Regions from separate parts of the Homo sapiens genome. Here all the other regions are linked to region 2. Evidence: fine-mapped expression QTL. A gene starts in region 2. Each other region holds a variant in brackets. All regions are shown on one strand. Distances are between the middles of the regions. Region 1 overlaps PATJ (PATJ crumbs cell polarity complex component). Region 2 holds the start of PATJ (PATJ crumbs cell polarity complex component). Region 3 overlaps PATJ (PATJ crumbs cell polarity complex component). Region 4 has its middle 25 kb from the start of L1TD1. Region 5 overlaps PATJ (PATJ crumbs cell polarity complex component). Region 6 overlaps PATJ (PATJ crumbs cell polarity complex component).

The links. PIP is the estimated chance that this variant, and not a neighbour inherited with it, causes the effect. A credible set is the group of variants that fine-mapping cannot tell apart.
Region 1: its variant is the best candidate, but not a certain one, in a credible set for the expression of PATJ in blood mononuclear cells (TOPMed, PIP 0.69).
Region 3: its variant is the best candidate, but not a certain one, in a credible set for the expression of PATJ in whole blood (INTERVAL, PIP 0.77).
Region 4: its variant is the best candidate, but not a certain one, in a credible set for the expression of PATJ in lung (TOPMed, PIP 0.58).
Region 5: its variant is the best candidate, but not a certain one, in a credible set for the expression of PATJ in testis (GTEx, PIP 0.62).
Region 6: its variant is the best candidate, but not a certain one, in a credible set for the expression of PATJ in T cells (TOPMed, PIP 0.90).

What each region holds. Positions count from the first base shown.
Region 1 is chr1:62,125,117-62,130,140 of GRCh38, reverse strand. It overlaps PATJ (PATJ crumbs cell polarity complex component), which reads right to left. Exons shown (of 44, transcript NM_001350145.3): 40 at 2,047-2,169; 41 at 1,196-1,300. Among named protein-coding and RNA genes, the nearest start is that of MIR3116-2, 49 kb to the right of the region's middle. The variant A/G (reference allele first, on the strand shown) is at 2,804.
Region 2 is chr1:61,740,335-61,745,358 of GRCh38, reverse strand. It overlaps PATJ (PATJ crumbs cell polarity complex component), which reads right to left and starts at 2,879. Exons shown (of 44, transcript NM_001350145.3): 1 at 2,804-2,879. PATJ-DT (PATJ divergent transcript) reads left to right here and starts at 2,575. Exons shown (of 1, transcript NR_185910.1): 1 at 2,575-3,361. RefSeq lists a silencer at 2,418-3,127.
Region 3 is chr1:61,874,132-61,879,155 of GRCh38, reverse strand. It overlaps PATJ (PATJ crumbs cell polarity complex component), which reads right to left. Exons shown (of 44, transcript NM_001350145.3): 21 at 3,790-3,913. Among named protein-coding and RNA genes, the nearest start is that of MIR12132, 31 kb to the right of the region's middle. The variant C/T (reference allele first, on the strand shown) is at 2,964.
Region 4 is chr1:62,167,128-62,172,151 of GRCh38, reverse strand. No RefSeq gene overlaps it. Among named protein-coding and RNA genes, the nearest start is that of L1TD1, 25 kb to the left of the region's middle. The variant A/G (reference allele first, on the strand shown) is at 2,743.
Region 5 is chr1:62,051,990-62,057,013 of GRCh38, reverse strand. The region is part of intron 31 of PATJ (PATJ crumbs cell polarity complex component); the gene reads right to left. Among named protein-coding and RNA genes, the nearest start is that of MIR3116-1, 24 kb to the left of the region's middle. The variant C/T (reference allele first, on the strand shown) is at 2,850.
Region 6 is chr1:62,133,040-62,138,063 of GRCh38, reverse strand. All of the region lies in intron 41 of PATJ (PATJ crumbs cell polarity complex component), which reads right to left. Among named protein-coding and RNA genes, the nearest start is that of MIR3116-2, 57 kb to the right of the region's middle. The variant A/G (reference allele first, on the strand shown) is at 2,820.

The DNA.
Region 1 (5,024 bases), 380 kb before region 2:
CTGGTCTTGTACTGCTGGCCTCAAGTGATCCTCCTGCTTCAGCCTCCCAAAGTGCTGGGACTATAGGTGTGAGCCACTGCACTCAGCCCAAACTTCTTATTTTAAGGCTAGAATGATGAGTGGCTGGCTGGCCCTCTCTCTAAGGTAGTAAGTGGTGGGCTTTATTCTTTATACCTATAAACTAATTTATTTTATTTTATTTTTGAGACAGTCTCACTCTGTCACCCAGGCTGGAGTACAGTGGAGCAATCTTGGCTCACTGCAACCTCCTTCTCCCAGGTCCAAGTGATTCTCCTGCCTCATCCTCCTGTAGCTGAGATTACAGGCACCCACCACCATGCCTGGCTAATTTTTGTACTTTTAGCAGAGACGGGGTTTCACCATGTTGTCCAGGCTGGTCTCGAACTCCTGACCTCAGGTGATCCGCCCACCTCAGCCTCCCAAAGTGCTAGGATTACAGGCGTGGGCCACCGCGCCTAGCCACCTATAAACCACTTTATATTACCTCTGCAGACCTATGGTAAGCATACATTTCTGGGGAAACTCATTAATGAAACTCACTGCCAGTATGCTGCCTCTCAGTCACTGCATGGTGTCAATCTCAGAGACATCTGAAGGGCTAAAATATAAGCAGGGGTAATTAACAGCACACTTTGCTTTTACATCCTGGTATATTTCCTTGTGCCTCTGAACAATACAGCTGGGGACCACAGCTGATAAACAATTGTCTGCCTTGGTTGATGACTGCTACGCGTGACAATTTAACAGTGTTGGCAATCTATGCTAAAGGAAAAAGACCATTGTATTTTTCCTCTTCCTTTAAGGGGAAAAGAAGAAACAGCACTTGGGCAGTTCAGTAACAGTCTTTGGGCATAAGAAAAGAAATCATTTCTTATTCCTTACAAATTCTGATTTACAAAAGAACACTGGAAACTAAAAGCTGTGTTGATTTATCATGTGAAGCAGAGAGTAATTTTTCTCCCCTTGTTATGCTTTCATATAATCATGCTCACTACCTGTATGGGTGGCATTAAAGAATTTCTGAATAAAAATAATAATTTCTTGCTTTCAACCTTCGTAATTCACATCAGCAAGCACCCTGCTGGGTGGCGATGTCTACTGCCAGTGACGCTCAATCTTTTTTGCATGCCACTTATCTGCCTTGCACAGCTGCGTGCTCCGTTGATCGCAATACCTGCAGGATAATGCGCCCGTAGGCGTTCTTCAGCAGATTAACCACATCCGCGTGAGACAGCCCATCCAAAGGTTGCCCGTTAATGCTGACAATCCGATCTCCAACCTGGAAGTACAAAAATGACAGAAAATCACTATCATTAAGAAAAATTAAATTTGAGAAGAATGCTTAAAATTCTTTGCGAGTCCTATTTCCCATTTGTGGCTATTGTGAGGATTCTGCGTTACTACCGTGCATGCATGTTCAAGAAGCATGAGGAATTTTTTTGGCTTTCCCCAAATACAGACAAATCAGAGCAACAAGAAGGGGGTCACATTTGATTATTAAAAGGCACAGTAGGCCATTTTTGTATTTTGGTAATGGTGGTGTTTCATACAACCATTTGCCAGTAAAAGCGAAGTGTACACATCAACCGTTCAATAAAGTTCTAATGAGGAAGCCAAATATTTTCTGCTATATTTTTCTACTGAAGTTAAGATTAAGGGGCAACAAGGGGGAGAAATCATAAAAATGGTGATTCTTTTGATTGAGGGAAGACTCTAAGGTCAAATGTCTCTCAGTTGAGAGCTGATTTTGGGTGGAATGAGGTGCTTAAAAGGGTAAAGGAGGGTTTGCAAAGGGGCTGCAATTTCTTCTTTTATGGAGAAGCTTTGATACAAATAATAATATTTTTATGTGCCTGGGGACCTAATGAATTTCTAAAGGTATCAAGTTTATCTAATGCATCTTGCCCTCAGCCTGGGTCTCTGATGGCTACTGGAATTCCAACTTTAAACAAGGTGCCCAGGGCTGCAACTTCCTCTCCCACCCCAACACATATTGTTAGTCTTTCAACCAGTTCTCTCGTTTACTTTAAGCTTCTGTGTCCGTGCGGCCACTCCGCTAGCCTGAATCATGGCAATAAATACGGGGATATCTCCTAAGGGACTTCCTCTTCCTCCAGCAATACTGATTCCAAGGGCATCACTGAGCTCCTAAAAAAGGAAGAAAACATAATGCTTTTATATTTAATAAAGAGCCACAAACTGACTATCCCTAGATAGATAGCTGTTGGAACAAAATCCCTCCATGAGGTAGGAGGCCAGGATAACATAGGAGTTAAATGTGGAACCTTTGGAGTAGACAGCTCTAGCTCTTTTTTTTTCAGTTTCGCTCTTGTTATCCAGGCTGGAGTGCAATGGCACGATCTCAGGTCACTGCAACTTCCGCCTCCCAGGTTCAAGCGATTTTCCTGCCTCAGCCTCCTGAGTAGCTAGGATTACAAGTGCGCGCCACCACACTTGGCTAATTTTTTGTATTTTTAGTAGAGACAGGGCTTCACCATGTTGGCCAGGCAGGTCTCCAACTCCTGACCTCAGGTGATCCACCCGCCTTGGCCTCTCAGAGTGCTGGGATTACAGACGTGAACTACCCTACCCAGCCCCAGCTCTAGCTCTTAATTAGCTGTGGGGTCTTGGGGGAAGTTACTTAACCTTGTGAAAGTTGTCAGAATCAAAATGGAGTCATTTGTGTCAAAAAAAAAAAAAAATTCCTTACCAATAGAGCCCGGAAAGGCTATGAAGAAAGAGTTCTCAGGCTTGTATGCCTGATAACAAAAATTATCACAAA[A/G]GACTGCAAAAACCACAACCCTGCAGGAAGGACATCACAACCTTTCATAAAAAAATACTTCTACAAGTGCATCTGTCCAGCAGATGCCTGTCCAGCCTTGGGCTGTGTGTCACCCCTGTTATTAATCTTTGTAGCCAAGGATAATTATCTCAAAATAATTATATATTTCTCATTTTGTCCTCTAAAACCTTTTATTTTCCTTACCTCCCTGAATATGCACATAGTCTACTATGGCCCGCATATTCCCATTCCTGAATAAACTGGCCCGCATATTCCCATTCCTGAATAAACATCATTTTCCTTTAGAGAGCCTCTCTGTTTGTTATTTAGGCTGACTACCTCTTAAAGCCTCCATCTCTATGTATAAAATGAGAAGAATACTACATACCTGACAGTGTTGGTCTGAGCATTAAATGAGATAGTATGGCACTGTCATGGCCTACAGAAAAGGCTCAATAAAAGGCAATAGCAGGAGTAAATTAAACACACACACACACACACAACACCCTATGCAGCTCCTTAGTTTAGTGGCCAATTCCGATGCAGACTTGGCAAGTATGTTCTCATATGGTGTTTATGATTAAACTGCCACACATACTATGCTCTTCTGGGTGTGAACAAACACATTTGGCTTTAAAAGACTGCGTTAAAACAAAGGATCTGAGAGGACACCCACTGTAGTGACAACAGTTTGAAGACAGACATAAAATGTGGCTGAAAATGTTCCCCAAGACGGACTCTGGTGAAGAGACTTGGCTCTAGTCCAGTTTTTTCCCCACATTAGTATCATAGGGTTAATATTTTTAAAATCACTAAAAGAACAAATGACAAGTTCCAGTTCTGGCATGGCAGCACAGGCACGTGACAGCGTATCTCTCCTGCTGGTTACAATCAAGATGTCTAGTCAAAATGTAAAAAACAACTACCTGTGGCCTCTGAAACAAAAAGAAACCAAATAAAGTATGGTGGAGAGTCAAAACTTGGAGAAATGGCAGCAGCAGGGGAAGTTCCCAGTTTTATTTTTTTTCCTGGCAGCTGTACCCTGAAGGTGATTCCCAGTCAAGGAGCTGGAAAGGTACGGTGAATGCTAACATTCAGATAGAAATTCCATCCTTCTGGGCAGAAGAATCAAGAAAGAGGGAAAGAGAAGAAAAGCAGAGAAGAGGAAGCTGAAGAAAACGAATCCTCAATTCTGTTTGTGAACCCACAGAACTCTCAGGCTGCTTATGTGTGAGACAGACCCAAACCAGCATAGCAGAAGTTTAGAGGCTGGGTGTGGTGGCTCACTCCTGTAATCCCAGCATTTTGGGAGGATGAGGTGGGTGGAACACTCGAGGTCAGGAGTTTGAGACCAGCCAGGCCAGCATGGCGAAACCCTGTCTCTACTGAAAATACAAAAAATTAGCTGGATGTGGTGGCACGCACCTGTAATCCCAATTACCTGGGAGGCTGAGGGAGGAGAATGACTTGAACCTGGGAGGTGGAGGTTTCAGTGAGCCGAGATTGCACCACTGCACTCCAGCCTGGGTAACAGAGTGAGACTCTGTCTCAGGAAAAAAAAAGAAAGAAATTTATGCTTGGATCACGTGTGGTAGAATAGGGTAGGTAGGAGCAGGCTTTATTACAAAAGCCTGTAAAAACAAGTGGCTGAAATGACTAAGGAAATATAAAAGAATATTATTTTTGAAATCTTAGAGGAGAAATTTATGCAATAATGTTTTGGCTTTGTTTAAATCCATCATGATGTTTCCTTAATTTATCTATAATTATATATACTGTTGGTACATTTAACTTCCCCATCATAGGAACATTTGAGTTGCTACTCTGGTGGAAAAATACCGGGAACAAATAAGGCAGATTTAGTCAAAGCTGTAGCTAATAACAACAGAAGCCACTTCCTGGGCATTCCTGATGCACTAGGTGCTATGCTAAAGACATTACATTCATGACCTCATGTAATCCACACAATAATATTTACCTTTGAGGTGAGTTAGTGTTATCACCCCCATTCTACAGATGAGAAAATTGAGGTTGAGTTGCTAACTATTATAGAGCTAATGGCGTTTTTTTTTTGTTTTTTTTTGTTTTTTTTTTTTTTTTTGAGACAGGGTTTTACTCTGTCACCCAGGCTGGAGTGCAGTGGCATGATCACGGCTCACTGCAGCCTCAACCTCCTGAGCTCAAGCGATCTTCCCACTTCAGCCTCCCAAATAGCTGGGAG
Region 2 (5,024 bases):
GAGGTTGCAGTGAGCTGAGATCACCCACTGCACTCCAGCCTGGGCAGCGGAGCAAGACTCTGTCTCAAAATAAATAAATAAATAAATATTTAAAAAAATTATCTGATCTCCCTTGTCTGATTGTAGGTCATAAGACCCCCATAAGAAGGGGTCCTGCCCATACCCTGGAGGAAGGAATGCTACAGAGAGAGGCCAAGAAAAATCTGAACAGATAGGCATTGCTGGGTTTCCCTACCCCATGCTTCAATTATGTCTACTCAATGAAGTCTCCATAAAAAGCCCAAGAAGATGGGGTAGGGAGAGCTTCTCAATATCTGAACACATGGAGGTTCCTGGAGGGTGGCATGCCCCTTCTCATACCTCACCCTGTGCATCTCTTCCTCTTGTATCCTCTGTAATATTCTTAATAATAAACTAGTAATAAACCTAAATAAGTGTTTTCTTGAGTTCCGTGAGCTGCTCTAGCAAGTTAACCAACCCAGAGGAGGGAGTTATGGGATTCCCAATTTATAGGTGGTTAGTCAGAAGCCGGGGTAAAACAATCTAGGACTTGTGATTGGCATCAGAAGTGAGGGCAGTCTTATGGGATCTGACACTATCCCCAGGTAAATAGTTTCAGAATCGAACTGTTAGATGCTCAGCTATTGCTTGATGCAGAACTGATGGGCCCACACATTTATTTGGTCACAGAAGTCCTCAGTGTTGACTGTAGTGGTGTGAGAGCAGAGGAAAAAGTTTGTGTTTTTTCTCTTACTCCTAATAGGATCTGGACTAGTAAGGGCAAATCTCTTCAGAACTCATTTTATAAGTTCTATCCATAAGTATTTCCATATTTATTAACTTTGTTATTATCTTTGTGAAAGTTGCAGATACCAGGTCAAAATCACTTTTTGTCAAACCCAAACAAACTAGAGAGCCTGAGGGAGAAAGCTCATGCTTGCAAGTCTGAGATAAAGATCGGTCTCAAGAAGGAACTAAAATAACCACCCAAGAAATTCTTTCTTTAGGAATGCAGTAATTCAGATAAGATAAGATAAGATAATCTTTTTTCCTTTTTTTTTTTTTTTTTTTTTTGAGACAGGGTTCTTGCTCTGTCACCCAGGCTGGAGTGTAGTGGTGCAAACACCACTCACCACAGCCTCCATCTCCTGGGCTCAAGCAATTCCCCTGCCTCAACCTCCCGACACACCTGACTATTTAAAAAGCTTTTTCTGTAAAGACAGCCATGTTGCTCAGGCTGGTCTCCAACTCTTGGCCTCAAGCGATCCTCCTGCCTAAGCCTCCTAAGTAGCTGAGATAACAGGCATGAGGCAGGTTGCCAGGCCTGATAAGATGCTCTCCATAACACCTGCCCAGTAATGGCATCTTCAACAATGGCCAACTCTGGCTTTCAGTCTGCAAAACCAATAAACTCTGTTTTCACGCAGCTTATCTGCACTTACTTTGCCAATAAAAGTTTCCTTTTACCCTCCCCTCTTCCATGCATATATGGCTTGCCAGGCCTGTGCACCTCGGGCTATAACGCTCATTTCTCATTCCCAAATAAATTCAACACATTTGGAGTGTTTTGTTGTTGTTGTTATTGTTAACATCTTAAAGGCCATTAGGGGCCCTAAAAACATCAAAGCTCACTTTAGCTAAAAGGCTCAATCTCACCTAACATTTTCTAATGCTGCAAACAGATTTAAGTTTTTAACCGCTGCCCCTGCCTCCACTCCTTTCAAATAGATGTGTGCAAATTAATTTGCAGCCAATAGGAATTTAGCCCAGAATGTGGTAGTATCATCCTCAGTGGAACCGACATTGTCCTTCTGGGTTTCCAAAGGCTTCTGCCTTCCTTTAAGAAACACTTGTCGCGCACCTACCAATAGCCAGACCCTAAATGCAGTCGAAAAATAAGGCCCTGAAAGGGGCACCCTCTAAATGGCAGAGGCAAGCCAGTAAACAACCAACTGGAATTCAAAGTGACAAGAGCCACTTGGAAATATGACAAAGTGCCAAGTGAAGGGGTGTTCACTTAATTCGGCCTGCGTGCGGGACGGCTGGGGCGCTTTGGAGAGTGGGAGTGATCTGAAAATGCTTTCCTGAGCTTGATTTAAAAGCAGGAGTCCAGGAATTTCCCCTAAGGCTGGAAGCACTTTCCGACAGAACCTCCCCATCTACGCAGCAAGGCTGGCAGAGCCCAGGGCCTGACCGCTGGCTTGGGAACCTCCGCTACGGGATGACCAGGCGCCGCGACGCGGCCGGGCCCAAGTCGCCCCCTCAGCCCGGCTCTGAGCACCCCCTCCTCTTTGTCCCCTCACCCCGTTCCCTCCTTCCACGGCCACCGATGGAGGGAAAGACTCCGCCCAGCTCTGGGAGCGAAACAGGGGCACCGATCTGGGCGCAAAATAGGATCCGTGCCACCCCCGAATACCAGTGGGCCGAGATTCGAGGCCCGAAAGGCCTGGGGAGGCGGGGCGGCGCCCCTCCCTGCCCGCGGCCTCGGCGAGCCCTGCGCGGCGGGGCGGGGACCACCGTGGGGTCACCCGGGCCCGACGCAGGAGGACGGCGCCCCCGCCCCGCCTCCCGGGTCAGCGCGGACGCACGCCGCGGGCGCCCCATCCTCGCCGCGGCCCCTCTGAGCGCCCGGCGGCGCCCTCCACCTCCGGCTCCCACCCACTCCAGGCGGGCGGGCGGGGAGAGCGCGGGGGCAGGGCAGGCAGGCCCGGGAAGCCCCGAGGGAGCTGCCCCCGGCCGGCCTCCAGGCGCGGGGACACCCAGGGGCGAGCGCGCACTGCACAGCCGGGACCTCACGCTTTACCTGGTGCGCTGGAGGAGCAGGTGGGAGCCCGGGTCGGGCGGGCTCGGTGTCGGCCCTGCCTCACCTGGGCGGAAGTGAGAGGCCCAGGGTGACCGCGCCTCACCTGGCAGGCCCTCCCCTCGCCCCGACTCTCCCCGCCCGGGGCGGGGCACCGGGGTGGCGCAGGGGGCGGGGGAGGGAGCCCGGGGCCGCGGGAGGCGGGCTCCAAGGAGGGAGGACGGTTGCCCTGGCTGTTTACGTGCAGGTGAATTCCTACCGGGCGCGGGATGGCCAAGGGCCTGGGAAAAGTGGGCTGTGGGGGCGGGGTGGCGGATCAGACCGCGCGTGGTGGGGACAGCCGCCACTGACGGGGAGGGAGATCCGGACAGACCGGTGTGGTTGGAGGCCTGCGTGTAGAGCGAGACCCAAGATCAAGGAAATTGAGGAGGATATCGATGAAAGCGTTGGGTCAATCCGCTTAACACTTTGTCTTTTTGCCCCTTTCCTTTCCTGTTCTCTCATCCCTCCTTTGTTTTCTCTATTCGCTGACGCAAAATAAAATATTCTAAAACGTGTAAATGTGGGAGTCATTATTTTCTTCTCATTTAGTGGAAGAAAGAAATCCAGCAGTATTTGCCTGCTGTATGCTAGGTGCTAGCTTATGCAATGTCTCATTTACTCTCTGAAGAAACTAATGAGGAAACCGTGCACCCTGTAGGTTGACTGGCCCAAAGTTTGGAACACAGGCAAGGCATTTTGACTCTAACTACAGTGATGATTTCACTATACGTTAATTTTCTTTTATTTGTGATGTCACACCTTCGAGAAAAATATGTCCCGATAGCCTTCTTCCACTCCCTTTAATAACTTTAGGCTTTTGATGATAGGGGTTTTACTTTGCCTGATACAGTCCACACATTAACGATAAAGAGAATCAATCTTCAGGTATCTTATTCATAGAGTACATACAGTAATTGTTAAACACTGTGATTGATTGTGGGAAGATGTGTAAAATGGTATCCCTGTCCCCAGGAAGATGAGGAATAGATACAAAACAACTACAACATAAAGACTTTCAGGCGGGGCGCGGTGGCTCACGCTTGTAATCCCAGTACTTTGGAAGGCCGAGGCGGGTGGATCACCCGAGGTCAGGAGTTCGAGACCAGCCTGACCAATATGATGAAACCCCGTCTCTACTACAAATACAAAAATTAGCCGGGTGTGGTGGATGCGTAGTCCCCTCTACGCAGGAGGCTGAGGCAGGAGAATCACTTGAACCCAGGAGGCAGAGGTTGCAGTGAGCCAAGATCCTGCCACTGCACTCCAGCCTGGGTGACAGAGAGAGACCCCGCCTCAAAAACAACAACAACAACAACAACAACAATTAGCCCGGAGTGGTGCCGTGAGCTTGTAGTCCCAGCTACTCTGTGGGGCTGAAGTCGGAGGATCACTTGAGCCCAGGGGTTCAAGACCAGCCTGGGCGACAGAGCAAGACTCCATCTCAAATAAATAAATAAATAAATAAAATTAAGATCATGCACTTGGTGCTTTGTAGTTTGCTTCCTTGTTTTAAAAGAAATGTAACACTTGTTAGTCATGGTAAGAAGACACACAATATCAGCATGGTTTCTGCTTTTTAGGAACTAACAAACTACTGAGGGAAATAACAGGCAAATTGCCAGATGGAAGCCAGACCTCAGAAAATGAAGAGATCTATTATGTTTTTTGAAAGCATGGGTTAGAACTTAAACAGGTCTTAACCAGAGTCTGAGATTAATTTAGGTAAAATGGAGAAGGAAAGGCTTTCCAAGTCGGGGGCAAAATAAAGTTGGAGATTGAGTGGGAAAAGGGAGAGGATTGAAAAACTACCTATCAGGTACTATACTTATTGCCTGGGTGATGAAATAATCTGTATATCAAACCCCATGGCCTACAATTTGTCTATGTAACAAACCTGGTTTTTTTGTTGTTGTTGTTGTTTTGAGACAGAGTCTCGCTCTGTTGCCCAGGCTGGAGTGCAGTGGCACAGTCAGCTCACTGCAACCTCTGCCTCCCTGTTCAAGCCATTCTCCTGCCTCAGCCTCCTGAGTAGCTGGGATTACAGGTGCCAGCCACCACACCCGGCTAATTTTTTGTATTTTTAGTAGACATGGGGTTTCACCACGTTGGCCAGGCTGGTCTCAAACTCCTGACCTCGTGATCCACCCGCCTCAGCCTCCAAAAGTGCTGGGATTACAGGCGT
Region 3 (5,024 bases), 130 kb before region 2:
CAATTGTTTTTATCATGTTTATAAGAATATGATGAATTGTGCATCAAATGTCTTCCTTAAGTCCATAAATTTGGCCAGGTGCGGTGGCTCACGCCTGTAATCCCAACACTTTGGGAGGCCAAGGTGGGCGGATCATGAGGTCAGGAGTTCAAGACCAGCCTGGCCAACATGGTGAAACCCCATCTCTACTAAAAATACAAAAAAATTAGCCGGGTGTGGTGGCACACGCCTGTAATCCCAGCTACTCAGGAGGCTGAGGCAGGAGAATCACTTGAACCTGGGAGGAGGAAGTTGTAGTGAGCCGAGATTGTGCCACTGCACTCCAGCATGGGTGACACAGTGAGACTCCGTCTCAAAAAAAAAAAAAATCCATAAGTTCATAGTATATTTGGGGTACTTGCCTTAGTAGAAAATCATAAATGACCTCTGACTAAGCAATGTAGATACTCTTTTAAAACTTTTTTTTTTTTTTTAAATAGAGATGGGGTCTCCCTATGTTGCCCAGGCTGGTCTCGAACTCCTGGACTCAAGTGATCCTCCTGCCTTGGCCTCCCAAAGTGCTAGAATTGCAGGTGTGAGCCACCACACCCAGCCTAAAACTTTTCCTATAATCATCACTGAAACTCTTTCCATGCATTCATCTTGAACAAATTTTCTGGTAAACTCACTACCACTTCTGCTTTTTATTTCATCTAGAAACTTTGGAATCAGGGTCCAATCAGTTGGCAATGTTGCAGATATGGGGTGAAAATACTGTCATGCTCAGGTGGGATTAACGGAAGTCTCAGTTACCTTTCCCCCATCCCCATACTCCCCTTTGCTCCCATCCTTGAGGGCCTCCATTCCCATATGACAATCAAAGCACTGCCCCACTGTTCCAGCTTTGCTGATGTCTGCCTCCCCCTCACTGAGGACACTGAGGAGGAAGGACCAGGGCAGGACTGGTGCTCAGGCAGGAATGGCTTAAAACCAGAGTTTTCAGAACAGGAAACTGGTTCTCTATGTCCCATCCAGCTACACTGGAAAAAGCAGTCTGTTAAACTACACCACTAAGTTGCATAGGTTGGTGCAGTTTAAAACTTCATGAATTGCTCCACACAAAGGCTACCTGTGCCCTCTGCCCCACTGCCTCCTCCATGGACCCTGTCAGTGCACAGGCACACATTTCTAACCTGTCACAGCGCTTCACGCAGTTACACTTTACAGAGCTGTCCACCAAGTGCACAGAGAAACCCAGGAGCCCATGAAAAAGATTGAGTCCTGTAGGGCCTCTGTAATCAGGTAATGGTCATAACAGGGGTACAGAGGTTAGAAAAACAGGGAGATTTTTAAAAAATAAATGCTCTAGGATTTAAGTTGTATTAATCCACTCTCACACTGCCATAAAGAACTACCGGAGACTGGGTAATTTATAAAGAAAACATGTTTAATTGACTCACAGTTCCACAGGCTGTACGAGAGGCATGGCTAGGAAGGCCTCAGGAAACTTACAATCATGGCAGAAGAGTGAAGGGGAAGCACGCATGTCTTCATATGGCAGTAGGAGAGAAAGCATGCGCAAAGGGGGAAGTGCCACACACTTTTAAACCATCAGATCTCTTGAAAATTCACTCACTATCATGAGAACAGATGGAGGAAATCTGCTCTCATGATAAAATCACCTCCTACCAAGTCCCTTCCCCAATACTAGGAATTATGATTCAACATGAGATTTGAGTGGGGACACAGAGCCAAACCATATCAGAAGTTAATGCTTATAGGAGAGGAATGGAGGAAATTTTCTAAAGGTCTACATTTGATGAGATGCAAGAATGGAATAACAAAATAAAGGCAAGCAGAATCCAAAGTAGAGAAGAGATCGGGTTACTATACAACTTAGCAACTGAAAAAAAAAAAAGTAATGAACTGATATGCTGTTGAATAACCACGTGAGCAGTACATCATTTCCTCATTCAGTAAATATTTCTTGAGCACCTACTATGTGAATATAATCAGATACAGTCCTCACCCTCCTGAAGCTTAGTGTGTAGTTAAGAGACAGGCCTGCAAGTAAGCATGTGCACTGAGTCTTGACAATAACACAAAATCAATTTGGATTTGCAAATGGCACAACCCAGTCTTCGAGCAAAGCCTGGGAAACAGAACTGCCTTCTGTCTGAAATCTTCCAAAATCTTGTAACACTAAGTGTATTACTCAATGCAATAATGTCAATAATTACATTATTAATTATGCAAATTTAAATGCTTAGTTTTATAACCCATGAAGAGTATATGCTTTTCAAAGATACACAATTTTGGATTAACCAAAAGGTCAAGAATATCTCTTTACACAGGGGTTCTCAACAATGATTTCTAAATTCATTGTTCTGCAGATAAATCTAAGATTGCCTCTTATTCCACTGCTCCTCCACCCAAACACCAGCCCATATAGCTAGTCTATTTCTTTTGATCTTGACAGTATAAACCAGTGGTTTATACAGTATACATGTGGCCACATCTGGAGACATTTTGATTTTCATCATTACTGGGAGAGGGTGTGCCACTGGCATCTAGGGTTAGAAGACAGGGACGCTGCTAAGCATCCTACAATGCACAGGATACCCCACCCCCACCAAAAGACTCATCTGGTCCAAAATCGTGCTAAGTTTGCTACAGTATTAATAGTAATGAAACAGATATGGTCTATTTATTCATTTACTCAAACATTTGTGCTATAAATCTTCTCCAACTATTTAATAGAGAACTATAAGAAATGTGGTGAATTTTAGAAAGCAATATACCTGGAGAGTTTTATTTTGGGAAGTCCCATTTTTCTTCTAGTCATGATCTTGAAAACTTGGGTAGATTCATCTAATCTTAGATATTTAAAATTAAGTATTCATACTCTGTCTTTTTTTTTCCATGCTCTGTTTTGACCCACAGGAAACTGTATGTTATCATCTCAGAGACGCCTTCAATTTTTA[C/T]CCTTAAGTATTCCATTTTTTAGAATTTACTTAATAGAATCCTAATCTCATATAAAACTGTTACATCACTTTCTACAGCCCTCTCTCCCCTTACAACATATTACTATACAACACAGAGAAAGACTTTTAAGTAGTCATAACAAGTGAAGGACAGCATAAATCCTCAACAATGGCTCTATAAATCCCAGTGCTATGAAAGCATTTAACAATCTCCCTAGGGATGTCAATTTTATAATGACATTCAATATTTTAGTGTTAGATGAAGAAAAATTCTTTTTTAAAGTCAACTTTTCAAACATATATAAGAATCGATATTGAGGGGCAGCAGGGAGAGGCACTATACTTTTAGAATTCTTTAATGGAAACTAAGTTATTAATGTACTAAAATTGACTGTAATATATGGCTATAAAAATGTTTCATAAATGTTTAAAATATGCCTCTCTTTATTAATATTTAACAGTCCCATTAAATGAGCTAGCAATATTACTTAAGAGCATCAGAGATTTTAATATATATTAGTAGAGACTTATTTCAGATTTGGTGTAAGGTTCTAGTCTGAGTTTCAATCCATACTGCTAATAAAATGCAACATGAGGCAGAGAAAATGTAGCCTTCTCAAAAAACAGAATCTGAAAACTCTAAGTTGAAATCTGAGGCATGTTTATTCTTTCAGGTAATTCTGAAGCAGATTAATTATTAAGCAGACATAAATTCAAAGCATCATAATGAATAAAAATATGACGGTGAAATTCATGTATACAAACATAAAACTGAAAGCTTGCAAAATAATGTAATTTGTGTTTATGAGAAACAAAAGTCACAAACCTAAATCCAGACTAGTTTTTGCTAATGAATTAAGATTTTCCAGGTCGTCAAATCTGCCTTGTTGACTGTTTCCTTCAGTTGATGGTACAGATGGTAGGGACTCCATGACAAAATTTTCTTTCATCTTGAGAGGAAGAAAAATAGAAATGCATTAGTACTTTATGAAAAAAATGTATTACTGTACAGTTGATCAAGCCAAGTAATAATGATAGTGGAAAACTGGCCTTGCAAACAGGCATTCTCAAGTAATGGTTTATACTGTGGTAAGCAGTAACAAATGCTGGTAACAATATCTGCAAGAGTATAGGCTAACAAAATCTGTTTATTCTAAAACTTGGATTTTTAACCAAAAAAACTGTTTTATAAGCATTAATAAGTGGATTTAAATAAACATTTACCAAGGTAGAGGAATAAAAGATCTATCAAGTCAAGCAAGGTCAACTGCTGATACACACAGCCTCCTGGATTGTGTTGCTCTGATATCTACAAATAAATAGCTTCCTTGCTGACTCCAAAATATGTGATAAATTTTCATATCTATAAGCGTTTGTTAGCACTCTTATCTGCCTGGTGAATACCTAAGTTATCAAACCTAAAACCTAAAACCTACAGATAAGTGCTGTTGATAACTTAACTGCATTTTCCTCCCATCTTGCTTTTATATACATGTTTTTTATGGTTTTCCAAAGTCACAATCTTCCAGAATGCTAAAATATTTATGTTTCCCCTGACCCTGCAAATTCATATGTTAAAATCCTAACCCCCAAGGTGAAGATATTTAGAAGTGGGGACTTTTGTGGGGTGATAGAGTTATGAGGGCAGAGCCCTGGTGAATGGGATTAGTAGTGCCTTTATAAAATAGGCCCAAGGGGCTGGGTGTGGTGGCTCACACCTGTAATCCCAACACTTTGGGAGGCCAAGGCAGGTGGATCACTTGAACCAGGCATTTGAGACCAGCCCAGCCAACATGGGGAAACCCTGTCTCTACTAAAAATACAAAAATTAGCCAGGCATGGTGGTGCATGGCTGTAATCCCAGCTACTTGGGAGGCTGAGGAGAACCACTTGAATCTGGGAGGCAGAAGTTGCAGTGAGCTGAGAACAGGCCATTGCACTCTAGCCTGAGTGACAGAGAGACACTGTCTCAAAAATAAATAAATAAATAAATAAATAAATAAATAAATAAATAAATAAAATAGGCCCAAGGGAGCTCATTCCACTCTTCCACCCTGTGAG
Region 4 (5,024 bases), 430 kb before region 2:
ATTAGCCGGGCATGGTGGTGCATGCCTGTAATCCCAGCTACTCGGGAGGCTGAGGCAGGAGAATCGCTTGAACCCAGGAGGCGGAGGTTGCAGTGAGCAGAAGTCGTGCCATTGCACTTCAGCGTAGGCAACAAGAGCGAAAGACTCCATCTCAAAAAAAAAAAAAAAAAAAGCAAAAAGGTCTTATAGGGAAAAGAGAGATCAGACTGTTAGTGTGTCTATGTAGAAAGGGAAGATATAAGAAATTTCATTTTGACCTTACCCTGAACAATTGCTTTGCCCTGAGATGCTGTTAATCTGTAACTTTGCCCCAACCTTAAGCTCACAAAAACCTGTGTTGTATGAAATCAAGGTTTAAGGGATCTAGGGCTGTGCAGAATGTGCCTTGTTAACAAAATGTTTACAAGCAGTATGCTTGGTAAAAGTCATCGCCATTCTCTAGTCTCGATAAACCAGGGGCACAATGCACTGCGGAAAGCCGCAGAGACCTCTGCCCTGGAAGGTTGGGTATTGTCCAAGGTTTCTCCCCATGTGATAGTCTGAAATATGGCCTCGTGGGATGAGAAAGATCTGACCATCCCCCAGCCCGACACTCGTAAAGGGTCTGTGCTGAGGTGGATTAGTAAAAGAGGAAAGCCTCTTATAGTTGAGATAGAGGAAGGCCACTGTCTCCTGCCTTTTCCCTGGGAACTGAATGTCTCGGTATAAAACCCGATGGTACATTTGTTCAATTCTGAGATAGGAGAAAAACCACCCTATGGCGGGAAGCGAGACATGTTGGCAGCAATGCTGCTTTGTTATTCTTTACTCCACTGAGATGTTTGGGCAGAGGGAAACATCAATCTAGCCTACTTGCACATCCAGGCATAGTACCTCCCTTTGAACTTAATTATGACACAGATTCTTCTGCTCACATGTTTTGTTGCTGACCTTCTCCCTATTATCACCCTGCTCTCCTACCACATTCTTCTTGCTGAGATAGTGAAAATAATAATCAATAAAAACTGAGGGAACTCAGAGACCGGTGCCGGTGCAGGTCTTTGGTATGCTGAGCGCCGGTCCCCTGGGCTCACTTTTCTTTCTCTATACTTTGACTCTGTGTCTTACTTTTCTCAGTCTCTCGTCCCACCCAACTAGAAATACCCACAGGTGTGGAGGGACTGGCCACCCCTTCAAGTCTGAATGTTGTTTGCCTGGGAGTGAAATTTCCTGTAACTCCTTGAGGAGCTTTAAAAAAAAAAATACCGGTTCTTAGATTTCTCCCTTTCTCCCCCTACTCTGGGGTGTGCTTGGGCATTGAGCCTTTAAAATATCCCCAGGTGATTTGAATGAATAGCCCAGGTTAAGAACCACTGCCCTAAAAAGAGCAGCAGGTTTGTGCTATTTCTTTTTTTTTTTTTTGAGACCGAGTCTCACTCTGTCATCCAGGCTGGAGTGCAGTGGTGCAATCTCAGCTCACTGGAACCTCTGCCTTCCGGGTTCAAGATCCTCCTGCCTCAGCTTCCCGAATAGCTGGGATTTACAGGCGCCCCCAAGCCCGGCTAATTTTTGTATTTTTAGTACAGACGAGGTTTCACCATGTTGGCCTGGCGGGTCTGAAACTCCTGACCTCAAGTGATCCACCCGCCTCGGCCCCAAAGTGCTGAGATTACAGGCATGAGCCACCGCACCCTGTCAGGTTTGTGCTTTTTGGACAGGTGGGGCTGTGTGTTGTACCTGTCTGCTAACAAATGTTCATACACCTGGGCATGGTGGCTCATAACTGTAATCCTGGCACTTTGGGAGGTTGAGTGGGAGGATCGCTTGAGGCCAGGAGTTTTAGACCAGCCTGAGCAACATAGTAAGACCTCGTCTCTACAAAAAATTTTAAAAAGCCCACTGTGGTGGTGTGTACCTGTAGTCCTAGCTACTCAGCAGGCTGAGGCAGGAGTGTTATTTGAGCCAAGGAGGTCGAGGGTGCAATGAATCCTAGTCTCACCACTGCACACTAGCCTGGGTGGCAGAGTGAGACCCTGTTTTAATAAAAAAAAAAGAAAGAAGTTCAGTCTGGGTGTGCTGGCTCACGCCTGTAATCCCAGCACTTTGGGAGGCTGATGTAGGAAGATCACTGGAGCCCAGGAGTTCAAGACCAGCCTGAGCAACATGGCGAAATCCTGTCTCTACTAAAAGTACAAAAAATTTGGTGGGTGTGGTGGCATGCACTTGTAGTTCCAGCTACTGGGGAGGCTGAGGTGGGAGGATCACCTAAGCCTGGGAGGTCAAGGCTGTGGTGAGCCATGATCGCGCCACTGCACTCCAGCCCAAGCAATAGAGTGAGACCCTGTCTCAAGAAAAAAAAAAAGTTCGTACAGGTGCAGACTCAGTCTGAGACTGGTTCTAACAGGTAAAATACCTCCAGTGGCAAGGCAGCAAGGAAGGAGCCTTGTGTTTCTTTCTGCCTTTAGCCACTGGAGGCAGAAAAGAACTCGGCAATTTGTGAATGACCACAGACTGGAAAAAAAGGGGAGTGTTCTCCAGGCTTTCAAAGTTTAGTGTTTAGAATCACCAGAAGAGCTTGTTAAAACTCAGATTTTTTGGCCCTACCCCAGAGATTCTGATGCAGTTGGTCTAGGCTAGGGCATACATTTGCACCTCTCCTAGGTGATGCTGATGATGGTGGTCTGCAGTCACATCTTGAGCAGCAGTGCTGTCTATGCCAATGGATAGTGTGCGCAAAGGCCTAAGGGTGTGAGAGTCCGGCTT[A/G]TCCTGGGATAAGTGCTTAGTGAGACGAGAGTTAACACGACTGCTGGAGGTTAAGGTGGAAGCTAAATTATGAAGAGCCTAACATCCATGCTGAGTTTAGACTTGACCCTGAGTCCACTGAGAAGCCACCTAATTAGGTATACAAATACTTAGGGTCCTTGGGTGGTGGGGTGGCAGAGGCAAGATCTCAAGCCATCTGCTCCTGAGGGTTCTGGGATGGTAGAAGTGATGATGGTGACTGCACCACAGTTGTGGACACCAGAGGGGGCGGGAGGCTGGAAAGGGGTTGTAAACAAGGATAGTGGACACTTCTGCACTTTCCCTAAGGCAAGGCCGTCCCTAGAGGGGTCTGTTCAAGGTCTCATGATGTCTGATGCTTGATCTGTGAATTTGGAGGGTGTTTTTGGATGAGATCAATGTTCCTTTTTTTGTTTGCTTTGTTTGTTGTTGAGATAGGGTCTCGATCTTTCTCCCAGGCTGGGGTACAGTGGCGCCATCTCAGATCACTGCAGCTTCTGCCTCCTGGGCTCAAGTGATCCTCCCACCCTCAGCCTCTGGAGTAGCTGGGACTTCGGGCACGTGCCACCATGCCCAGCTGTGAAACATTCTTCACAGAAAATTATCTTCTGGGTCTTGAGCCTGCTGGCCCACAGTGTAGATTTTGGACTTGCCCACATCCGTAACTGCAAAAGCTAATTCCTTATGATAAATCTTTCTGAATACATACAAATCCTCTCGGTTCAGTTTCTCTGGAGAACACTAACTAATACAATGTTGGACAGGAAGTTTCTGCTCTCAGTCTTTAAGAACAGGTGAATCTTATTCCTCATGGCATGGGGGCCACTGGAGTATGTTTCTTTTCTTTTTGGGGGGAGTGGGAGAGGAGGAACAGGGTCTCACTCTGTTGCCCAGGCTGGAGTGCAGTGTGTGATCATCGCTTACTGCAGCCTCGACTTCCAGGCTCAAGCGATCCTCTCACCTCAGCCTCCAAAGTAGGTGGGGCTGCAGGTGCGTGCCACTGTGCCAGGCTGATTTTTTAAGTAATTTATTATTTTTCAGATAGGGGCCTTACTGTGTCACCCAGGCTGTAGTGCACGATCAAGGCTCACTGCAGCCTCAATATCCCTGGGCTGAGGTGATTCTACCACCTTAGCCTCCGGAGTAGCTGGGACTACAGGTGTGCCACCAGGCCCAGCTCATTTTTGTGTTTTTTGTAGAGACAGGGTCTTGCCATGTTGCCTAAGCTGGTCTCAAACTCCTGTGCTCAAGCAATCCGTCCACCTCAGTCTCCCAAAGTGTTGGGATTACACATGTGAGCTACTGAGCCCAGCCTAATTTACTTTTTGTGGAGATCAGGTCTCACTATGTTGCCCTAGCTGATCTCGAACTCCTGGGTTCAAGTGATCCTCCACTTTAGCCTCCCTGGACTGTTTTCAGACAGCTATCCTGAAGTTCCCCAAAGAGTAACACATGGCTCTGGGGTTGAGAGGAGTTGAATGATGGAGTCCCTTTAAGACATTACCGTTTCTTCTGTTCTCCTGGGAGAGTAATGCTGGGGGCATGCCCAGTAAAGCCATTAGGCAGGAGGAGCCATTGAAACACCTCATCTGTCATCAACTATGTCTATCTAGAGAAGAAGAAGGTTTAAACCATGAGGGGGGAGGGTATCCAGAGTGCCTGGCCTTGGAAATTCTTCCCAGGATGTGGAGATATACGGTGAGTGGATAGACTAGGTCTTCTTTGTCTACATCCAAAAGATGTGTCCTTTTTTCATTTGTTTGTTTTCTTCTACTCTTTATTTTAATCTTTTTTAAATCTTGTGCTTGTATTGTGGAACCAAATCTTGTGGTTGTGTTGAGGGAAAACTGAAATAAACTTACAAATTCAGGCTGTGCACACACATGTTTATAGTGGCTTTATTCCTAATTGCCAAAACTTGGAAGCAACCAAAATGTTCTTTAGTAGGTAAATGGATAAACTGTGGTACATCCACACAACGGAGTATAACTCAGTGCTAAAAAGAAATCAGCTATCAAGTCATGAAAAGACATGGAAGACGGGCTGGGTGCCGTGACTCACGCCTGTAATCCCAGCATTTTGGGAGGCCGAGGCAGGTGGATCACCTGAGGCCAGGAGTTCATCACCAGCCTGGCCAACATGGCAAAACTCCGTCTCTACTAGAAATACAAAAATTAGTTGGGTGTGGTTGCGCACGCCTGTAATCCCAGCTACTCAGGAGGCTGAGGTAGGAGAATCGCTTGAACCTGAGAGGCGGAGGTTGC
Region 5 (5,024 bases), 310 kb before region 2:
CTCAACTAAAAGTACAAAAATTAGCCGGGCCTGGTGGCGCATGCCTGTATTCCCAGCTACTCAGGTGGCTAAGGAACGAGAACTGCTTGAACCCCAGAGGTGGAGGTTGCAGAGCAGGGAGCTGAGAAAGCGCCACTGCACTCCAGCCCAGGTGACAGAGTGAGACTTAAAAAAAACAAAGTGTAGTAACCTCCAATTTGAGCCCTGGCTTCAATGGGTGATTTTTTATTTTTGAGATGGAGTTTTGCTCTTTCACTCAGGCTGGAGTAAAGTGGTGTGATATTGGCTCACTGCAACCTCCGCCCCTGGGGTTCAAGTGATTCTCCTACCTCAGCCTCCCAAGTAGCTGGGATTACAGGCATCCAACACCACGCCCAGCCAATTTTTGTATTTTTAATAGGAACGGGGTTTCGCCATGTTGGCCAGGTTGGTCTCGAAGTCCTGACCTCAGGTGATCCACCAGCCTCGGCCACAACTTTTTTTTTTGAGATAAGGTCTTACTCTGTCACCCAGGCTGGGGTGCAGGGGCGTGGTCATAGCTCACTGCAGCCTCAAACTCCTGGCCTCAATTAATCCTCCCACTTCAGCCTCCTGAGTAGCTGGGATTACAAACTGGAGCCACTGTGCTTGGCTCCAAGGCAATTTATTTAACATTTCAGTGCTTTATCTCTTACATGGAAATGATACTACTATATAACTACTATTGTTATGTGAATAAGTTAGCATGTGTTAAAGAGCTTAGAATAATATATTAACTATGATGGTGAACTTTAGGTATCCATCTGAGTGGATTAAGGGATATCTAGCTAGCTGGTAAAACACTATTTCTGGGTGTGTCTGGAAGGGTGTTTCCAGAAATGATGGGCATTTGAAGCAGTGGACCAAGCAAGGAAGACCTACCCTCATCCAGTTTGGGCAAGGCACCATCCAATTGGCGGAGGGCCAGGTAGAACAAAAAGGCAGAGGAAAGGTGAATTCGCTCTTTTCTGAAGCTGGGACACCATTTTCTCCTGCCCCTGGACATCAGAACTCCATGTTCTCCAGCCTTTGGACTGCAGAGCTTTTATCAGCAGCCCCCTGGTTCTCAGGTCTTCACACTTTAACTGAATTTGCTCCTGGCTCCCCTGGTTCTCCAGTTTGCAGACAGCCTATTGTGGGACCTCTCAGGCTCCATAACACGTGAGACGATTCCCTTAATAAATCCCTTCTCAGATATCCATATATCCTATTGGTTCTGTCTCTTCGGAGAACCCTAATACATTAGTAATTGTGCTTTTCAGGTTGAAAAAGTCACTTCAATTTTTCAAGTTATATCTTAATGCTTCACTTGGAATAGTTGTTCCTTCTATGGCTACCCCTTAATGCTTTAATCAGAATGACAGCATCATCCTCATTAACAACAATTCACTCTTTGACAGTGACTACAGCGCACTCTGGTATGGATTAAGTAGTACTTTACTGTTATCAACTCATTTAATTTTTCCTCCCATTTTACAGAGGCATAAACTGAATCACAGAGAGGTTAAGTCATTTCTCTAAGGTTATAATTGTTAGCGAATAGCGGAACCAGGATTTGAACCCAAGTAGTCTAGCTCCAGTGATTGCACTCTTACTAATTTAATTATACCACTTCAAAAGAGCATATTATATGAACATAGATATTCTGAACATTATAAGCACACAAGTTTATACCCAAAAGATTAAAGTAATTATTTTAGGGATCTTGAGCTCCGATGTCAGCAAGCTACCAGGACATCATGAGGCTTTCTGAATGAGTTCCACTTCTCCCAATTTCCAGTTTTTTGATCTTACACTGAGCAGATAAAGTCTCATCTATAAATCTGGGATAAATAATTCTTCTCCTTCTCTTTACATATGGTTATTTTGGGGATAAGATTAAGATCACAAACCAACTAAACACCATTTTAGAAAAAAACTTAAATTTTTTTTTCTTTTTTTTGAGACACAGTCTCGCTCTGTTGCCAGGCTGGAGTGCAATGGTGCGATCTCAGCTCACTGCAACCTCCGCCTCCCAGATTCAAGCGATTCTCCTGCCTCAGCCTCCCAAGTAGCTGGGACTACAGGCACCCGCCACCATGCCCAGCTAATTTTTGTATTTTTCGTAGAGATGGGGTTTCACCATGTTGGCCAGGCTGGTCTCGATCTCTTGACCTCTTGATCTCCCCGCCTCGGCATCCCAAAGTGCTGGGATTATAGGCATGAATCACCGTACCCCGCGAAAAAACTTAAATATTAAAAAAATTAAGCCAATGAGATTATAGATGAAACTGTTTTGCAAATTGGAAAGCTCTGTGCAAGTACTTTCATTCAAGTTCTTTTCAAAAGGCTTCTAACAGGCTCTCATCTAGACTTCTGAAATAGATACCAGACACTTCCCTGCCTCCAGTCTCTCACAATCAGAATCTATGTTTCACAAACCATCAACTGATCTACAAAAAAGTTATTTCCCCCTTTAAAAATATTTTAAAGAAATGGAATACCTTCTGAAATTATTATAAACTCCTTGGCTATGCATCTAGGGCTACTGAGACACAGTCCAAAGCCAACCAACTGAATATACTGAAAATAGCACTGGAGTATGCATAGGCCACGGCTTAGCCTCAGCTCTGAAAATAACTTTTTTTTTTTTGGACACAGGGTTTCACTCTGTCACCCAGGCTGGAGTGCAGTGGCACAATCACAGCTTACTGCCACCTCAACCTCCCAGGTCCAAGTAATCCTCCCACTTCAGCCTCTTGAGTAGCTGAGACTACAGGTGCTTGTCACCACACTCAGCTAATTTCTTCTTTTTTTTTTTTTTTAAATAAAAATGGGGCCCACAATGTTGC[C/T]TAGGCTGGTCTGGAACTAGGCTTGTCTTGAATTAATACTTCATTACAAGACAATGACATTTATGTATATGTTAGGTTGAACCATATGAAATTTTTACCTACCAAAATGGCAATTTCATATGATTCAATCCAACATTTTGCTAATTGATGTACTGTCTATCTTCCTTCCCCCTCCAACTGTGGAATGAGTCCATGAGGGAAGGCATTTTTGTACATTTTGTTCACTGCGGTATCTTCAGTACCTGGAACATAGTGGTATTTGGCAAATATTTGTTGAATGAATGAAATGAATTTACTAAGCTCTATTTGCCCTATATTCTTCTGTGTGATTTATATTTTATAGCCCCTTTGTTTCCTAATAGCATCCTAATTACCGTCATTCCTCAGCTGAGGAAACTGAGGTTTGGTGAGGTCAAGTGACTTCTTCAAGACACTTTTTTTTTTTTAGACGGAATTTCGCTCTTCTTGCCCAGGCTAGAGTGCAATGGCGCGATCTCGGCTCACTGCAACCTCCATCTCCCAGGTTCAAGCGATTCTCCTGCCTCAGCCTCCCAAGTAGCTGGGATTACAGGCATGCGCCATCATGCCTGGCTAATTTTGTATTTTTAGTAGAGACGGGGTTTCTCCATGTTGGTCAGGCTGGTCTTGAACTCCCAACCTCAGGTGATCCTCCTGTCTTGGCCTCCCACAGTGCTGGGATTACAGGCGTGAGCCACTGTGCCCGGCCAGACACTCTTAAATAATACTTTATGCCAGGCCATTTATATTTATGCTATAAAAGTTGTCCAAATTCAGGCTATCTTTCCTTTCTGAACTAGAACATGCAGAGATTCTACTGCAAACAGTGATTAAGAAACTCCAGAACCAAAAGGACAGATGGTGGGTAAGGAAGGGAACAGAGTGGAAAAAGACAGACACTAGTCAATGGGTATGGGAAAGCCTTCAATTGTTGGTGAAGTGCAGTATGAAACATTATCTAAAAATGACCCTCAGGCCTCCAGGCCCTCTGCCTCTTCAACTGTCTTGACACCTGCAGCCCTGTCACTGGTGTTGCTTACTTGGGAACTGGGAGTGGATGATGGATGGCTTTTACCTTTGGCCTGCACATGAGCCTGGCTGGGACTACCAGATTCTTCCAGCAAGCAAGAGAGTATTCTCACTCTTTTTACCATTTCCTCTGTGGATGAAATTGGGGATGCCTACCTACAAAATTCTGTTGCTTTAAAAGACTTTCCCCTAACCTGACTATGGAGATATAGTGCCAAACAGAACAAGTTAACATATTTTTAAGTAAAGGGGCTTTCGGTTTGAAATTTGTTGCTGTTCCTCATTTCCCTGTAGTGCAAAAATGCACTCTACCTTTTGGAAAGGGAAATCATAATTTTTTACTGCCATTATTCTTTTTTCTTTTTTTTTTTTGAGACGGAGGTTCACTCTTGTTGCCCAAACTGGAGTGCAATGGCGTGATCTTGGCTCACCGCAACCTCTGCCTCCCCCTGGGTTCAAGCGATTCTCCTGCCTCGGCCTCCCGAGTAGCTGGGATTAGAGTCATGCACCACCACGCCCAGCTAATTTTTGTATTTTCAGTAGAGACGGGGTTTCTCCATGTTGGTCAGGCTGGTCTTGAACTCCTGACTTCAGGTGATCTGCCCGCCTTGGCCTCCCAAAGTGCTGGGATTATAGGCTTGAGTCACTGTGCCCGGTCATTTTTTTTTTTTTTTTTTTAGTCAATCTCTGGTAAATAAACTGCTAGTACTCTTCATGCCAGGGGTCTCAGGTCCCATGTAGGGTTTATTCATGAGTGGCCCATTACAATTTCCACTCTTGCTGAAACATTCTTTCCCTTCAGCCAGAATAAGCTCACTTTCTAGGATATGCAATCTGTGGCAGTCGCAAGATATATTTTCCAAAACCTGAAAGAGGATAAATGGATGATTTCTCAAATGCCCTGAAGTAAAATGAACAACTCTGGGCTGTCATAAAATCAGAGTTAGATGACACTCCTAAGTGATTAATTCTTTGAGATTTGTAGGACATTTTTAAACACAGAGGGGAAAAAAGCCTACATTTCTTCTAGAATTTGTAGTCTAACCCTGGAAGTGCTGGGCTACAAAACAGAAAAGCAGATGATGAGCCAAGGCATGGGAGTCAGAGGGTAGGGCAGCCATCTCCCAG
Region 6 (5,024 bases), 390 kb before region 2:
GTGGAGGAGACCCCTGGTCTGAAGGAAGAGAAGGAACTCTCCCAACCCAAAGAGGGGGAGGCCACAGACCTGAAGAAAGAGGTGGAGAAAATCTCCTCATCCGAGGAAGAGGAGACTGTGAACCTGAAGGAAGAGGTGGAGAAAATCCCCCCACCTGAGGAGGAGACTATGGACCTGAAGGAAGAGAAGGAGGAGATCCCCCCACCTGAGGTGAGGGAGGCCACTGGCCTGAAGAAAAAGCAGGAAGAAATCCTCCCACCAGAGGACGGGGAGGCTGCAGCCTTGTCCTCTGCGCCTACGGAACAGTTAGAGACGTTTGCATCTGTGGAAGAACAGACAAGCCTGCTTCCCTCTCAATCTGTGTTCCCCCCACAAACTGCTATCCCCCCTCATTCTGTGTTCCCCCCTCCAGAGGTATTTCCCCCTCAGGCCTCTGTCCCCCCTCACTCTGTGTCCCCCCCTCCGGAGGCATTTCCCCCTCAGGCCTCTGTCCCCCCTCACTCTGTGTTCCCCCCTCCAGAGGCATTTCCCCCTCAGACTGCTGTGCCCCCTCACTCTGTGTTCCCCCCTCCAGAGGCATTTCCCCCTCAGGCTGCTGTGCCCCCTCACTCTGTGTTCCCCCCTCCAGAGGCATTTACCCCTCAGGCTGCTGTTCCCCCTCATTCTATGTTCCCCCCTCCGACGAAACTCACTTATTCCATGTTTCCTTCTGCCAATGGGTTTCCCCCTCACTGTTTCTCCAACAGGGTTCTCCCTCTGATGTGAATTTCCTTAATTTGTGCCACCTTCCCCACTGTTTTCCTTTAAGAAGATATTTATTTTCATGTACTCTCTTGTGCTTTGCCTCCATGTTGCATTTAATAACTTAGGGTAAAAGGAACATTAAACTTAATTAGAACTATATGTTCTACAGTGAAATATTGTGTATTTATTAAGCTTTCGAAATGAGTAATAAAGTAGAGGTCTTTACTGCATGGACCTAGGTTGAGTATCTTTCTTTAAAAACAGGTTTAGGTATTATGTTTTGGAGAATTGAGAAGTCAAAATAATTTCCAGATAAGAAAGATATTACAATGCATAAAAGCTTGAGCTCCTTGCTTAGAACTCTCCTAAAGGTTCCTGCGAAAGAAGATGATTAGCCCTTAGACTTATTAGGACCCAAGCCTTTCAGTACCAAATCTGAAATTTAGCACTGGCTGGGTGTGGCGGCTCATGCCTGTAATCCCAGCACTTTGGGAGGCTGAGGTTGGAGGATTGCTTGAGCCTGGCAGATCAAGGCTGCTGTGAGCCATGATTGTGCCACTGCACTCCAGCCTGGGGGACAGAGTGAGACCCTGTCTCAAAAAAACAACACACCACACACACACACAGACACACACACACACACACACACACACAGACACACACACACACACGCAAAACATAAAAATCCTCAGCACTTACATGCAGCTGGACCCTCAAACTATGGGTGCACACATGTTGAAAACAAACAGGAAGGCTGTAAAGTTAAGGTGATCCCTGAGAAAGCTGGCATCTTAAGATGGGGACACATTACAGAAAAACACACACACACACACACACACACAAGAAAAGCCCATGCCTGGCCTTTGGTGTAACTTACTGAAATAGAAAGCACAGCTGCTTAAAGTTTTTGTCCAGAATCTAGTGACCCTGATTTTAGTGACACCAGAATATATTGATTTTTATGTGTCTGTTAAAAATTTAATGATCGGGCTGGGCGTGGCGGCTCACACCTGTAATCCCAGCACTTTGGGAGGCCGAGATGGGCGGATCACTTGAGGTCAGGAGTTCAAAACCAGCCTGACCAACATGGAGAAACCCCATCTCTACAAAAAACACAAAATTAGCCGGGCGTGGCGGTGTGAGCCTGTAATCCCAGCTCAGCTACTCAGGAGGCTGAGGCAGGAGAATTGCTTAAACCCAGGAGGCAGAGGTTGCAGTGAGCTGAGATTGCACCATTGCATTCCAGTCTGGGTAACAAGAGCGAAACTCTGTCTCAAAAAAAAAAAAAAAAAAAAAAAAAAAAATCTAATGGTCTGAAGAAGTGTGAAGCACTTGGAGTAAAATTCGAAAAGGGCAAACTGACTTCCAGCCACATTGCCACCTAGTGGCACACACCTCAAATGCCACCTGGAAAACCACTCCACTTCCAGGATTTTATAAAGGAATTTTAGTATCCTCTAACTTCAAGCCTATGTTAGTACAATGAAAGTAATAAGATACCACTTAGTATTTATCATTTGCAACATCCTGTATTTATTAGACACTTTACATCACACTTCATCTAATCCTCAGAGCAACCTTTTTAAGAAAGGAGCTCCACAGTCCCTGTTTTAGAGGAATAGAAGGTGAGACTTTAGTAAAAGGATTCAAACTCACGACTTTCTGACACTACAGCCTACCTCTCCTACCTAACTTGGGCTAGGTGTTCATTTCAACTTTCAAACCTTGGGTCTTTGTCCTTTTCCTGCAGTTTATCACTGTCTTCATGGCATTAATTTGGCTTTTTTTTTTTTTTTTTTTTTTTGAGACGGAGTCTCGCTCTGTCACCCAGGATGGAGTGCAGTGGCGCGATCTCATCTCATTGCAACCTCTGCCTCCCGAGTTCAAGCAATTCTCCTGCCTCAGCCTCCTGAGTAGCTGGGATTACAGGTATGCATTACCATGCCTGGCTTATTTTTGTATTTTTAGTAGAGGGGGTTTCACCACGTTGGCCAGGCTGGTCTTGAACTCCTGACCTGAAGCGATCCCCCCCACCTCGGCCTCCCAAAGTGCTGGGATTACAGGCGTGAGCCACC[A/G]CACCTGGCCTAAGCATTAGTTGGCTTTTTATTTGCAAACCCTGGAGACTACTTTTCTTACCCCTGGCTGCATATTAGAATCACCTGAGAAATTTTAAAATCATCTGATGTCCATGCCATATCCCAGAAAAATTAAATCTGAACCTCTGGGGTGGGGCCCAGGAACAGGTATTAAAATCAGTGATTTTATTATGCAACTAAGGTAAAGACCTAATAGCAGATCATTCCTTTAGTGATACTCACATAGGCCATGACGCGCCTGCTCTGCACCCTCAATGACACACCTTTTCCATTTCCAACCCTGGGTAAGCCATCCGTCTTCCTCCCCTCCTGGAATTTTTCTGGACTACATTGGTAACTGTGCTGATTTGTTCCCCTATTAGTTCATGTCCTTCAGCTTGATTGGAATGGCTCAGCAACTCCATGTGGGCAGCACTGAGGAGGTATCTGCTCTGGGCGAGGCCTGCGCCCGAGGCACAGACACAGATTTCTCCAGCTTTGGAGAACCATGGTCTGGAAGGACATCAACACCCAGGCACTCCCTATTCTTCGATGGAGAGTTTCTAAACAAAGGATTTTCCAATATTTATAAAGAAAAGAGGCCGGGCGTGGTGGCTCACACCAGTAATCCCAGCACTTTGGGAGGCTGAGGCGGGCGGATCACCTAAGGTCAGGAGTTTGAGACCAGGCTGACCAACATGGTGAAACCCCGTCTCTACTAAAAATACAAAATTAGCTGGGCGTGGTGGCACATGCCTGTAATCCCAGCTACTCGGGAGGCTGAGGCAGGAGAATCGCTTGAACCTGGGAGATGGAAGTTGCAGCGAGCCAGGATCACGCCATTGCACTCCAGCCTGGGCAACAAGAGCAAAACTCAGTCTCAAAAAGTAAAAAGAAAAAAAAAAAAAAAAAAAGAGAGGGCTGGGTGCGATGGCTCACACCTGTAATCCCAGCACTTTGGGAGGCTGAGGTGGGACAGTCTCTTGAGTGCAGGCCAATAATGAGACCTTGTCTCTCTCTTAAAAAAAAAAAAAAAAAAAGACGAGAGTACGGTGAGAAGGGTGTTTCAGATGAAGAGAATAACGTGGGGAGACCTTTTTCATCCCTAAATAATGCTCTACTCCACTGGGTCTGAGGCATGGGATCTGAATTAGCAGCATCACCAATACCTAGGAGCTTGTTAGAAGAAATGCAAAATTGGCTGGGCACGGTGGCTCACACCTGTAATCTCAGCACTGTGGGAGGCCAAGGCAGGCGGATCACCTGAGGTCAGGAGTTTGAGACCAGCCTGGCCAACATGGTGAAACCCTGTCTCTACTAAAATACAAAAATTAGCCGGGCATGGTGGTGGGTGCCTGTGGTCCCAGCTACTGGGGAGGCTGATGCAGGAGAATTGCTTGAACCCAGGAGGTGGAGGCTCAGTGGAGCCGAGATTGTGCCACTGCACTCCAGCCTGGGCTTCAGAGCGCAACTCTGTCTCAAAAAAAAAAAAAAAAAAAGCAAATTCTTGAATCCCACTCCACTCCTGCAAAATCAGAAAGGCTGGGGGAGCCCTCCAGGTGTTTCCAGAGCGTGCTAAAGTTTGAGAAGCACCATTCTACTCAAATCTGTTTAGCTGCTTTTCAAACAGACCTATATTCTTGGTTCTTTTCTATTCTTTTTTCTCGAGACGGTGTCTCACTCTCGACTAGGCTGGACAGCAGTGGTGCAATCTCGGCTACTGCAACCTCTACTCTCCGGGTTCAAGCTGTTCTCCTGCCTCAGCCTCCCAAGTAGCTGGGACTACAGGCATGTGCCAACACACCCGGCTAATTTTTGTATTTTCAGTAGAGATGGGATTTCACCATGTTGGCCAGGCTGGTCTCAAACTCCTGACCTCAGGTGATCCACCTGCCTTGGCCTCCCAAAATGCTGGGATTACAGGTATGAGCCACCACGCCTGGCCATATTCTATTTTTTCTAAATATTTCTTTTTTGTGTGTACATAATAAAAAATGAAATAGTACAGTACATGATAAAAAAAATTCAACACTTGCCCTCCCTAGAAGCACATTGAACTTTTCTCTTTTTAATTCTAAAGAATAAGCTAAATAATATTCTTATATGCCTATTTTGAAATGTACTATCTTGGTGTCCACTGACTCCCTACTCTAAGAGATGAAAATTTAGCTCGCCAAACTCTTCCACTTAACTGTTACATCATTT